3 linked regions of the Homo sapiens genome follow. The protein of the gene in region 1 interacts with the protein of each later gene in a biochemical or structural test. Each region holds a gene or a part of one and is shown on either strand. Other genes may lie near its edges.

Evidence for each region.
Region 2: of the proteins of MARK2 (region 1) and PINK1, one has a biochemical effect on the other in vitro, tested with the Homo sapiens proteins (one study listed by BioGRID).
Region 3: of the proteins of MARK2 (region 1) and RNF41, one has a biochemical effect on the other in vitro, tested with the Homo sapiens proteins (one study listed by BioGRID).

What each region holds. Positions count from the first base shown.
Region 1 is NC_000011.10:63,842,067-63,845,789, forward strand, and holds part of MARK2 (serine/threonine-protein kinase MARK2), read left to right. Parts: intron 1-3,723. UniProt on the Homo sapiens protein: Serine/threonine-protein kinase. Involved in cell polarity and microtubule dynamics regulation. Phosphorylates CRTC2/TORC2, DCX, HDAC7, KIF13B, MAP2, MAP4 and RAB11FIP2. Phosphorylates the microtubule-associated protein MAPT/TAU.
Region 2 is NC_000001.11:20,646,958-20,650,457, forward strand, and holds part of PINK1 (serine/threonine-protein kinase PINK1, mitochondrial precursor), read left to right. Parts: intron 1-1,357; exon of another isoform or gene 1,358-1,547; coding exon 1,548-1,675; exon of another isoform or gene 1,676-2,037; coding exon 2,038-2,274; exon of another isoform or gene 2,275-3,476; coding exon 3,477-3,500. UniProt on the Homo sapiens protein: Serine/threonine-protein kinase which acts as a sensor of mitochondrial damage and protects against mitochondrial dysfunction during cellular stress.
Region 3 is NC_000012.12:56,215,324-56,219,046, reverse strand, and holds part of RNF41 (E3 ubiquitin-protein ligase NRDP1), read left to right. Parts: intron 1-2,433; 5' UTR 2,434-2,618; intron 2,619-3,723. UniProt on the Homo sapiens protein: Acts as E3 ubiquitin-protein ligase and regulates the degradation of target proteins. Polyubiquitinates MYD88. Negatively regulates MYD88-dependent production of pro-inflammatory cytokines.

The sequences.
Region 1 (3,723 bases):
GACTTAGATTCTCCTTAGCCCCTTCATACCTTCTACTGTTGTTCTCAGGGTAGCCAGTCACTGTATCGATTTAATATTAAGTCTCATTCCAGTAAAAGCAGGGACTTTGGAAAACCTTGGATGCACCTATTCCAGACAGATTCCTGTATTCTTTTTTTTTTTTTTTTTTGAGATAGAGTCTCGTTCTGTCGCCAGGCTGGAGTGCAGTGGCACAATCTTGGCTCACTGCAATCTCCGCCTCCTGGGTTCAAGCGATTCCCCTGCCTCAGCCTCCTGAGTAGCTGGGACTACAGGCACACACCGCCACGCCCGGCTAATTTTTTGGATTTTAGTAGAGACAGCGTTTCACCATGTTGTCCAGGATGGTCTCAGTCTCCTGTCCTCGTGATCCGGCCTCCCAAAGTGCTGGGATTACAGGTGTGAGCCACTGCGCCGGGCCTGATTCCTGTATTCTTTAAAACGGGAAAAAAGACAAGCAGCAGCTCCTCAGGTCACAAGGCCAGGTATATCAAACACTGGCCTCCGAGAATAGATCATGCCACCAAGTGAAAGAAACCTCTTCTTGGTCCTGTTGTGATTTTAGATAAAGTAGTCATGGAAGCTTGGTCATTACTATAGTCTTAATGTTATTTTTTTTAAAAAGGGGATTTAGTTGGGCTGATTTCCTCCCCTAAAGGTCCTCTGTCACCTTATTTAAATTTAAAACTGGTTTTACCAGAAAATAGGTAAACAAACACCACTGGTTGTCTCCAGTCTCTTTTCTTGCTCTTCCTCTCCCTCTTCTTTAAAAATGTGGCTGATGAGAACCTGTTTCCAGGAGCCCTTTAATCACTCTGAAACACACAGACACTGAAAATGTTGAAGCATAAAAATAAACCTTGCGTTACAGGGAGATTGCCTGTGTGCTGTCCACTTCGCTTATAACAGTGAAAGTAGGAGATTAAAAAAAAAAAAAAGTTAAGCCCTGTCTTTAAGATGGTTTTTGTGACACCTGATTCCAGATGTGCTTTTTCACAGCCATAGACTTCCTGCTTTTGCAGAAGGAGGGTTCTAATCTGGGGCTCGTAGCTTGGGGGATTCTTAGTTTGTGAGCTGAGCTTTTTGTTCACTTCTTTTCCAAATGACTCTGCTGGCCTGAAGCTTGGCAGTTGTGAAAGCAATCAGCAAGATGACTGTTTGTCTTCCAGCCAGCAGCAGCAGTCACAGGCAAGCCTGGAGAAAGGTCCAGCTTCCAGAGTTCACCTGCTAGAGTTTTCCATAACACCTGGGGGAGAGGCTACTCCATCTGGGACCTGCCCCACCTCTGGGCCTCAGAAACTATGAGAGAGGGATTGAGAGAAAACTTGCCCCACTTCTGCTGCAGTGGGAAGGGAGGGGGCTGCTGTCAGGCTTCTAGGCAGTGAGCGGCATTGTTTATTCTCTCAGTTCTAGGAAGGGGAGTTTAGAAGTACTGGTGAAGAAAACAAAGTTACAAGATCCTATAAGGAACAGCTGAACTACTCCAAACACTCTCACTGGACCCCCATTGTTGATTCTGGATAAAAATATATATATATATAAAACTCTTTTTTTTTTTGACACAGAGTCTTGCTCTGTCGCCCAGGCTGGAGTGTAGCGATGCGATCTCGGCTCACTGCAACCTCCGCCTCCCGGGTCAAGCGATTCTCCTGCCTCAGCCTCCTGGGAGTAGCTGGGACTACAGGCGCCCACCACCATGCTGGCTAATTTTTGTATTTTTAGTAGAGACGGGGTTTTGCCATATTGGCCAAGCTGGTCTCGATCTCCTGACCTCAGGTGATCTGCTGGATAAATATTTTTTTTTTGCTTTTGGTGTAACTTAGGTAGATTGGATCGGCTAGCTAGCATCTCAGTCCACACTCTGAGCTGTGCAGCAGTGTGCCCTGGTGCTAATTCTCACTCTGTCCTTTGATTCTGGCCAGGGGGTCCTTGGTGGTGCTGCCTTCTGGTCAGGAATGTGGGTGAATGTCAGACCAAATAGTGTCACTTTCGGCTTGGCCCTAGAGATCAGGAAGGAAGTGTTGTTAGAGCAAGGGCTTTGGGAGTCCTTGGAGTTCGTAACCTTTGAATCTGAAAAGTAACTGTACCTAGTAAATTAGAATAATTTCTCTCTGGTCAGGCACCATGGCTCATGCCTGTAGTCCTAGCACTTTGGGAAGCCAAGGCAGGAGGATTGCTTGAGGCCAGGAGTTCAAGACCAGCCTGATCAATAAAGTGAGACTCCATCTCTACAAAAAAATTTTTTTAAATTTAGCTGGGCATGGTGGCACATGCCTGTGGTTGCAGCTACACAGAAGGCTGAGGCAGGAGGATGGCTTGAGCTGGGGAGGTCGAGACTGCATTGAGCTGTGTTTGTGCCACTGCACTTCAGCCTGGGTGACAGAGCAAGACACTATCTCAGAAAAAAAAAATTACTTTTCTCCAATTTATGGACTTCGGAAAGTAGCTAAACAGATGGATATAAGACAGTTGTTGAAACTCGGCCTGCTGCAGATTAAAATAAAGTTTGCACAAGGATAACTTAATCTTTCAGACCAACCAAAGTTTGGGCTGGAGATTTTTCTCAGCATAAATGTCCTAAGCAGAGTTGGTGCCTATGAGGTAGGAAAAGATTGAGACTTTGCTTGCCTAAGAGGTTTGCAGGGTTCGAGCTTTTGGGAGTCAGAACTTCTCAGACTAGATTGTTTCCCCTTTGGACAGAACAACCCAATTCTCAGTGGGCATTTGATCAGGACTAACCCAGGCCTTCATGAACTCTTTCCCATTGAGCACTTAGCCACCTGGCTGGCATTTCTCTTCTCCCAGGAGCTTCCATGAGGTTCCTACTTATGTATTATGTCGACTTGAATGAATATTTTATGTCTAGAGTGCAGCCAAGCCTCAGACTTTGTGGCCCATTATCGACAAATGGGGTAGGGGGTGGGCGCCACCTTTGGCCCCGTGATAGCTTCTCTGCTAAATGGACTCCCCCCAGCAGCACTTTGAAGCCCATTAATGGATTGGAATGAAGTAACCTCAGCAGATGGAAAGGGTGAGGAGGGTGGTCATCTTCCTTCCCTGAGACTGCCTGATGAGGCTTTCCTACAGTAACCAGGACAAGCCCCTATTCCCTCTGCTTGGTTAAGCTGTGGACTGGAGCTACTAGGCCTCTGCTTTGAGAGGAAGTATAGAAAGGATTTGATTCTCTTTTAGCCATGGTGGGGCCGCCAGTTTCCCCACTTTCCCATCAAAGCAAAAATTGAGAAGGATGTGGAAAGGGTGGGTGGAGTTTAAAGCTGGCCCTTCCTCCTTCAGTGGAAGTTCAGCAAAATGACAAACCAGATAGGTGGCTAAATTTCCTTCTCTTGATGGGAGATTCCAGTATTTGTACGTTTTGTGCTTGTAGCTTGGATTCTCCAGGCCTCCTCCCAGCTTTCATCAAACATGAGTGAGTCACTGAAGTGTTGTCTATGCATTTTCTCCCTTCTGTCTCTGCAAAGGGAAGAGTAAGCCTTTACAAACCTGTGGGGGAGGAAGTCACCCTCTTCCCACTGCTGGAGAGCCAGGCTATCCCCAGGTTAACCCTGAAAGTGCTAACTCCTGAGCAGAATGTTACTGCCACCCGCCCCCTTCCTTTTTGTTATAGGCCATTGAAGGTCATTGCTCGTCTTTTTTTTTGAGACAGTCTTGCTCTGGTCACCCAGGCTGGAGTGCAGTGGCAGGATC
Region 2 (3,500 bases), on another chromosome or scaffold:
CAACCTCTGCTTCCCAGGTTCAAGCAATTCTCGTGCCTCCGCCTCCTGAGTAGCTAGGATTACAGGCAGGTGCCACCACGCCTAGCTAATTTTTGATTTTTTTTTTTTTTTTTTTTTGAGACTGAGTCTCGCTCTGTCACCCAGGCTGGAGTGCAATGGCATGATCTCGGCTCACTGCAAGCTCTACCTCCCAGGTTCACACCATTCTCCTGCTTCAGCCTCCCGAGTAGCTGGGACTACAGGCGCCCACCACCACGCCCGGCTAATTTTTTTGTATTTTTAGTACAGACGGGGTTTCACCATGTTAGCCAGGATGGTCTCTATCTCCTGACTTCGTGATCCACCTGCTTCGGCCTCCCAAAGCGCTGGGATTATTATTTTTAGTGGAGATGGGGTTTCACTGTTGGCCAGGCTGGTCTCAAACTCCTGGCCTCAAGTGATCCACCCACCTCAGCCTCCAAAATGTTGGGATTACAGGTATGAGCCACCACGCCCAGCTGGGAGTTGGCTTTTTTTTTTTTTTTTTTTTTTGAGACGGAGTCTCACTCTGTCGCCCAGGCTGGAGTGCAGTGGCATGATCTTGGCTCACTGCAACCCCTGCCTATCGGGTTCAAGCAATTCTCCCGCCTCAGCCTCCTGAGTAGCTGGGATTACAGGCACACGCCACTACACCTGGCTGATTTTTGTATTTTTAGTAGAGACGGGGTTTCACCATGTTGGTCAGGCTGATCTGGAACTCCTGACTTCGTGATCCGCCTGCCTCGGCCTCCCAAAGTTCTGGGATTACAGGCGTGAGCCACTGCGCCCAGCCAGGAACTGGCTTTTTAAAGGAATTTTGTGTGGACCCTTTTACAAATAACCAATTCTTTTTTTATTTTTTCTGAGACAGAGTCTCGCTGTGTTGCTCAGGCTGAAGTGATTCTCCTGTCTCAGCCTCCTTCACCTCCCAGGTTCAAGTAATTCTCCTGTCTCAGCCTCCCGAGTAGCTGGGATACAGGCACACACCACCATGCCTGGCTAGTTTTTTTGTATTTTTAGTAGAGACAGGGGTTTCACCATGTTGGCCAGGCTGGTCTTGAACTCCTGACCTCAGGTGATCTACCCGCCTCGGCCTCCCAAAATGTTGGCATTACAGGCCACCACACCCGGCAATAACTGATTCTTAATGCACCTGGTTCTTAGGTTTGGATTTGGGGTTTCAAATTCAAATCAAAGTCTCCTGGGGTATAAGGGCCCTTGGAGATCATTTGAACCAAGCTCTAGCTCCTTTGGTCTTGGGGACAGCTCCAATTACTAGAACATGATTTAAATTGAGCCACACAGTCCTTTGCCTGGGGATTTTGCAGCCTGTACTTACTGGAGGCATTTCCGTGTTCGCACAGCAGGCCCTTCTGATCAGCTCTCAGGCCTTGCTGACCTCCTGGGCCAACACTGAGCCATTAGCCCCTGTCAGCTATGTCTTGCTGGTGGCTTTAGTAGGGACATAGGAGGGCCTCTCAGAGGGAAGGAGGGGAGGAGAAATGGTCACTTTGCTTGCTCCTTCCCAGACGGCTGCCCCTGGCTGGTGATCGCAGATTTTGGCTGCTGCCTGGCTGATGAGAGCATCGGCCTGCAGTTGCCCTTCAGCAGCTGGTACGTGGATCGGGGCGGAAACGGCTGTCTGATGGCCCCAGAGGTGAGTCCCGAGTGTGTCATGCGCCATCGGCAGCCCTTCCCCCACATGTCCACTGAATGCAGGAGACTCGATGCCTTGTGATAACCCAACACCTCCATCTTTTCTGACCCATAATTTGGCACAAGTTCCTTCCCTGCCACTTTGCTTTCCTCCGGCGTTCCCTCATGTTCCAGGAGAATGCAAGTCCTGTCACATAAACCAGGTGGTCTAAGCAGACCCCTTCTGGGTCTGAGCCACAGCTCACTCAAGCTCTGGGTTCCTTGGGACAGAGTTCAGATTAGCCCATGGATCAGGTGATGTGCAGGACATGAAAAGGTTAGATGGGCGGGCAGCGTGATGTCTCACCCACTGCTTCTGAGCAGGTGTCCACGGCCCGTCCTGGCCCCAGGGCAGTGATTGACTACAGCAAGGCTGATGCCTGGGCAGTGGGAGCCATCGCCTATGAAATCTTCGGGCTTGTCAATCCCTTCTACGGCCAGGGCAAGGCCCACCTTGAAAGCCGCAGCTACCAAGAGGCTCAGCTACCTGCACTGCCCGAGTCAGTGCCTCCAGACGTGAGACAGTTGGTGAGGGCACTGCTCCAGCGAGAGGCCAGCAAGGTGAGGCTGTCCCCGGCTTCGAGGGGACGGTGTGGGTAGAAACCTCTGTTCTCGTTCCAGAGTGAAGGTCAGGTTTGGGCCAGAGCCACAGTGACAGATCCTCTGTGTTAGGAAGGTAAAGGCTAGTTACAAGAGAACAAAAAACAGATTTTAATGTAGGTAGGAGTAGGAGCACTAGCCACCACAGCATAGTCAGAATCCTAGCAGTTCAACTCCTGTGGCTTTTTTAGTTGCTGAAAAAGTTGTTCAGAGGCCAGACACGGTGGCTTACACCTATAATCACAGCACTTTGGGAGGCTGAGGCGGGTGGATCACTTGGGACCAGGAGTTCCAGTCCAGCCTGGCCAACATGGTAAAACCCCGTCTGTACTAAAAATACAAAAATTAGCTGAGTGTCGTGGCACACGCCTGTAATTCCAGGTACTCGGGAGGCTGAAGCAGGAGAATCGTTTGAACCCTGGAGGCAGAGGTTGCAGTGAGCCAAGATCGCGCCACTGCACTCTGGCCTAGGTGACAGTGCAAGTCTTTGTCTCAAAAAAAAAAAAAAAAAAAAAAGGCTATTCAGAGAGAGAAAAGGAGGCATTTTTGAGAAATGTTTAATGGAGATGTAGCTCATGGAAGCAGCTGAGAACTGATCAGAGAGAGATGGAAAACATCTCCTGAGAGCAGATCTGGACATTGTGAAATTAATATAAAGGAATGCAAAGGCAGACCTATCCGAAGCCATAATTGGAGTGGCAGCTGGCTCAGGGGCAGGCTTAGTGCAAAGAGCTGAGCCATACCTGCACCCCAGCACTGTTCTGCCACTCCGTTAACTGCTCTCTGTACGTGGCCTGCTATCTTGGTGCGCAGTGAAGGTTAGAACAACAGCTGCAACCAGTTATGAAATGATAGAGGAGACTACTTACCTGGTTCAAGGGACCAGATAGCTGTGCACAAGAGGCACTAGGCTTTCCACCCAGGGGGAAAGGCTATTTCAACAATGCATGCTGCCCCATGCAGAGGTGTACACATGGAAAAGCTTGGAGCACGGGCAGGGGACAGGCAGTATTTGTCACCTGAGTGAAGGGCATCAGTAGGAGATAGGGTAGAGGAAGAATTGGGTTGGGACCAGAGAAGGGAAGACCCTCACTAACAAAGCAGGCTTTGGGTTGAGACTGTGTTAACAGATGTTCTAGCTACAGCTTCCCTTCCTGTTGCAGAGACCATCTGCCCGAGTAGCCGCA
Region 3 (3,723 bases), on another chromosome or scaffold:
TGAGCGACAGAGGAAGACTCCATCTCAAAAAAAAAAAGAAAAATAGGCCAAGCATGGTGGCTCACGCCTATAATCCCAGCACTTTGGGAGGCCGAGGCGGGCGGATCACAAGGTCAGGAGATTGAGACCATCCTGGCCAACATGGTGAAACCCCGTCTCTACTAAAAATACAAAAATTAGCTCAGCATGGTGGCACATGCCTGTAGTCCCAGCTACTTGGGAGGATGAGGCAGGAGAATCGCTTGAACCCGGGAGGCAGAGGTTGCAGTGAGCCAAGATCGTGCCACTGTACTCCAGCCTGGCGACAGAGCAACACTTTGTCTCAAAAAAAAAATAACATATATATATATAATAAATATGTATATATTATATATACCTTATATTAATATATAAGGCAGGTATCATTTTCCCTACTTGACAGTTGAAGCAACAGAAAAACTACAGCAGGGTTACTTGACTTGTTTAAATGTGTAGATTTGGGGGTGGGCGCAGTGGCTGGTGCCTGTAATCCCAGCACTTCGGGAGGCTGAGGTGGGAGGATTGCTGGAGCCTGCCCAGGAGTTCAAGACCAGCCTGGGCAACATGGCAAAACCCCATCTCTACCAAAAATACAAAAATTAGCCAGGCATGGTGGTGTGTGCCTGTGGTCCCAGCTATTTGGGAGACTGAGGTGGGAGGATTGCTGGAGCCTGCTGGGAAGGCGAGGCTGTAGTGAGCTATGATCATGCCACTGTACTCCAGCCTGGGCAATAGAGCAAGACCCTATCTCAAAAAAATAATAATAATTTATGTGGGCCAGGCGCGGTGGCTCACACTTGTAATCCCAGCATTTTGGGAGGCTGAGGCGGGTGGATCACCTGAGGTCAGGAGTTCGAGACCAGCCTGGCCAACATGGTGAAACCCCGTCTCTACTAAAAATACAAAAATTAGCCGGGCATGGTGGTGGGTGCCTGTAATCCTAGCTACTCTGGAGGCTGAGGTAGGAGAATCACTTGAACTCGGGAGGCCAAGGCTTCAGTGAGCCAAGATCGCGCCATTGCACTCTAGCCTAGGTGACAGAGCGAGACTCTATCTCGAAATAATAATAATAATTTATGTGAAAGCACTTTGGAAACATTAAAGCAGCATCCCCAGCCTTTTTGTGGAAGATAGTTTTTCCACAGATGGTGGGCGAGGGGATGGTTTTGTGATGGAACTCTACCACCTCAGATCATCAGGCATTAGATTCTCATAGGGAGTGGGCAACCTAGATCCCTCGCATGGGCAGTTCACAATAGGGTTCATGCTCCAATGAGAATCAAATGCCGCTGCTGATCTGACAGGACATGGAGCACAGGCCTTAATGCTCGCTTGTTTCCTGCTCACCTCCTGCTGTACGACCCGGTTCCTGATAGGCCACAGTCTGGTACTGGTCCATCTGGGGATTTGGGGACCTCTGCATTAAAGCATCATCCTGTACACATAATGTATTATGGATCTATGCATTTTGCTTTTTTTTTGAGTCAGAGTCTTGCTCTGTCGCCTAGGCTGGAGTGCAGTGGCGCGATCTTGGCTCACTGCAACCTCCGCCTCCTGGGTTCAAGCAATTCTCCCTGCCTCAGCCTCCTGAGTAGCTGGGATTACAGGCATCTGCCACCATACCCGGCTAATTTTTATATTTTTAGTAGAGATGGGGTTTCGCCATGTTGGCCAGGCTCATCTCCGACTCCTGACCTCAGGTGATCCACCCGCCTCGGCCTCCCAAAGTGCTGGGATCACAGGCGTGAGCCATCGCAACCTGGATCTATGCATTTTGTAGTCACAGATTTGGAATCATTATTACTGGTAGTTATGTGCACTGAATAAAAGAATCTTAAATCTCCAACAACTCCTCTACTTTTCCTCTTGTCTTTTTTTTTTTTTTTTTTAAGACGGAGTCTTGCTGTGTCGCCCAGGCTGGAGTGCGGTGGCGCGGTCTCGGCTCACTGCAAGCTGCAGCTCCTAGGTTCACGCCATTCTCCTGCCTCAGCCTCCCGAGTAGCTGGGACTACAGGCGCCTGCCACCTCGCCCAGCTAATTTTTTGTATTTTTAGTAGAGACGGGGTTTCACCGTGTTAGCCAGGACGGTCTTGATCTCCTGACCTCGTGATCCACCCGCCTTGGCCTCCCTAAGAGCTGGGATTACAGGCGTGAGCCACCACGCCCGGCCTCTCTTGTCCTTTTCTTTCCCCCTCCCAGCTATGTTCAAATCTACTGGACCCCGTGTGTGTGCTTCCTTAGCTGGTGAGCTCCCTCCTTAGAAGGTAGTCTTATTTGCCTAGCACTGAAAACTGTAGTGCTTAATGGAGTTGTCTCATCCTCCCCAACCAACTGCCAGATCCATCTGTCCAGTCTCCTTGCCAAGTGGAGGTAGTTCTCCTGACTCTCCTTTCTCTTCCTTGTTCCTATTACTAGAGTACTCCTGATTGTGACATCACATTCATCCCCTGGGCGATGGAGCTTGTCACTGGGAAGGAATACTCAGTCGGAGAATAGCCAACAAGATGGGTTACTGGGAGAATCTCTTCAGTGGCACTGAGTGGAGGCATCAGGGGGTTGGAGCCTTGTGAACAGGGAACCTGCCCCCCAACACTTGGAAGGTAAAGAGCTTTGATTCAGAATCCCATTCCAGGCCTCAACCCTCTTCTCTGTCGCTCGGGATTCCTTCTGCCCTTGAAAGTCCAGTTCTTAAAACTTCTTTCTGCAGAAAGCTTTCTGTGATTAATCTGTACCATTTGTTCTTTTTTGTATATTTACAACTTACATAAATTATTGACTTTTACTTGTTAATAATTTGCTTAATACGTTTATGTGTTTTTATGTGTTTTTTTTCCTATGTACTCATTGGGCTCAAGCCTACACCTTAGTTTGAGGACAAGGATTATGTGTTTCTTCTTTTTTTTTTTTGAGACAGAGTCTTGCTCTGTCGCCTAGGCTGGAGTGCAGTGGCATGATCTCAGCTCACTGCAACCTTCACCTCCTGGGTTCAAGCAGTTCTCCTGCCTCACCCTCCCAAGTAGCTAGGATTACAGGTGCCCACCACCATGCCCAGCTAATTTTTGTATTTTTAGTAGAGATGGGGTTTCACCATGTTGGCCAGGCTGGTCTTGAACTCCTGACCTCAGGTGATCCACCCACCTCGGCCTCCCAAAGTGCTAGGATTACAGGCGTGAGCCACTGCGCCCAGCCAGTTGTTTACTGACCTCTTCTTTGGGTTTGACCTTTGGGAGCCCAAAGAAGGGGCATGGCGCCATTGCCGCTGTTTGAGTCCTTGCTCTTTTGGACCTCTCTTTTTTTTTTTTTTTTTTTTTGAGACAGAGTCGTGCTCTGTCACTGGGCTAGAATACAGTGGTGCAATCTCGGCTCACTGCAACCTCCGCCTCCTGGGTTCAAGCGATTCTCCTGCCTCAGCCTCCCGAGTAGCTGGGACTACAGGTGCGCACCACCACGCCTGGCTAATTTTTGTATTTTTAGTAGAGACGGGGTTTCGCCATGTTGGCCAGGATGGTGTTGATCTCTTGACCTCATGATCCGTCTGCCTCAGCCTCCCAAAGTGCTGGGATTACAGGCATGAGCCACCATGCCCGGCCCTCTCTTCTCTTCTTTATCCCCATCACCACCACCACCTAAGTTCAGACTCTTACCGTCACTCTCCTGACTTAGATGTTCTTCCGGTCTCCAGTTTCTCCCCTGTTAACATACTGA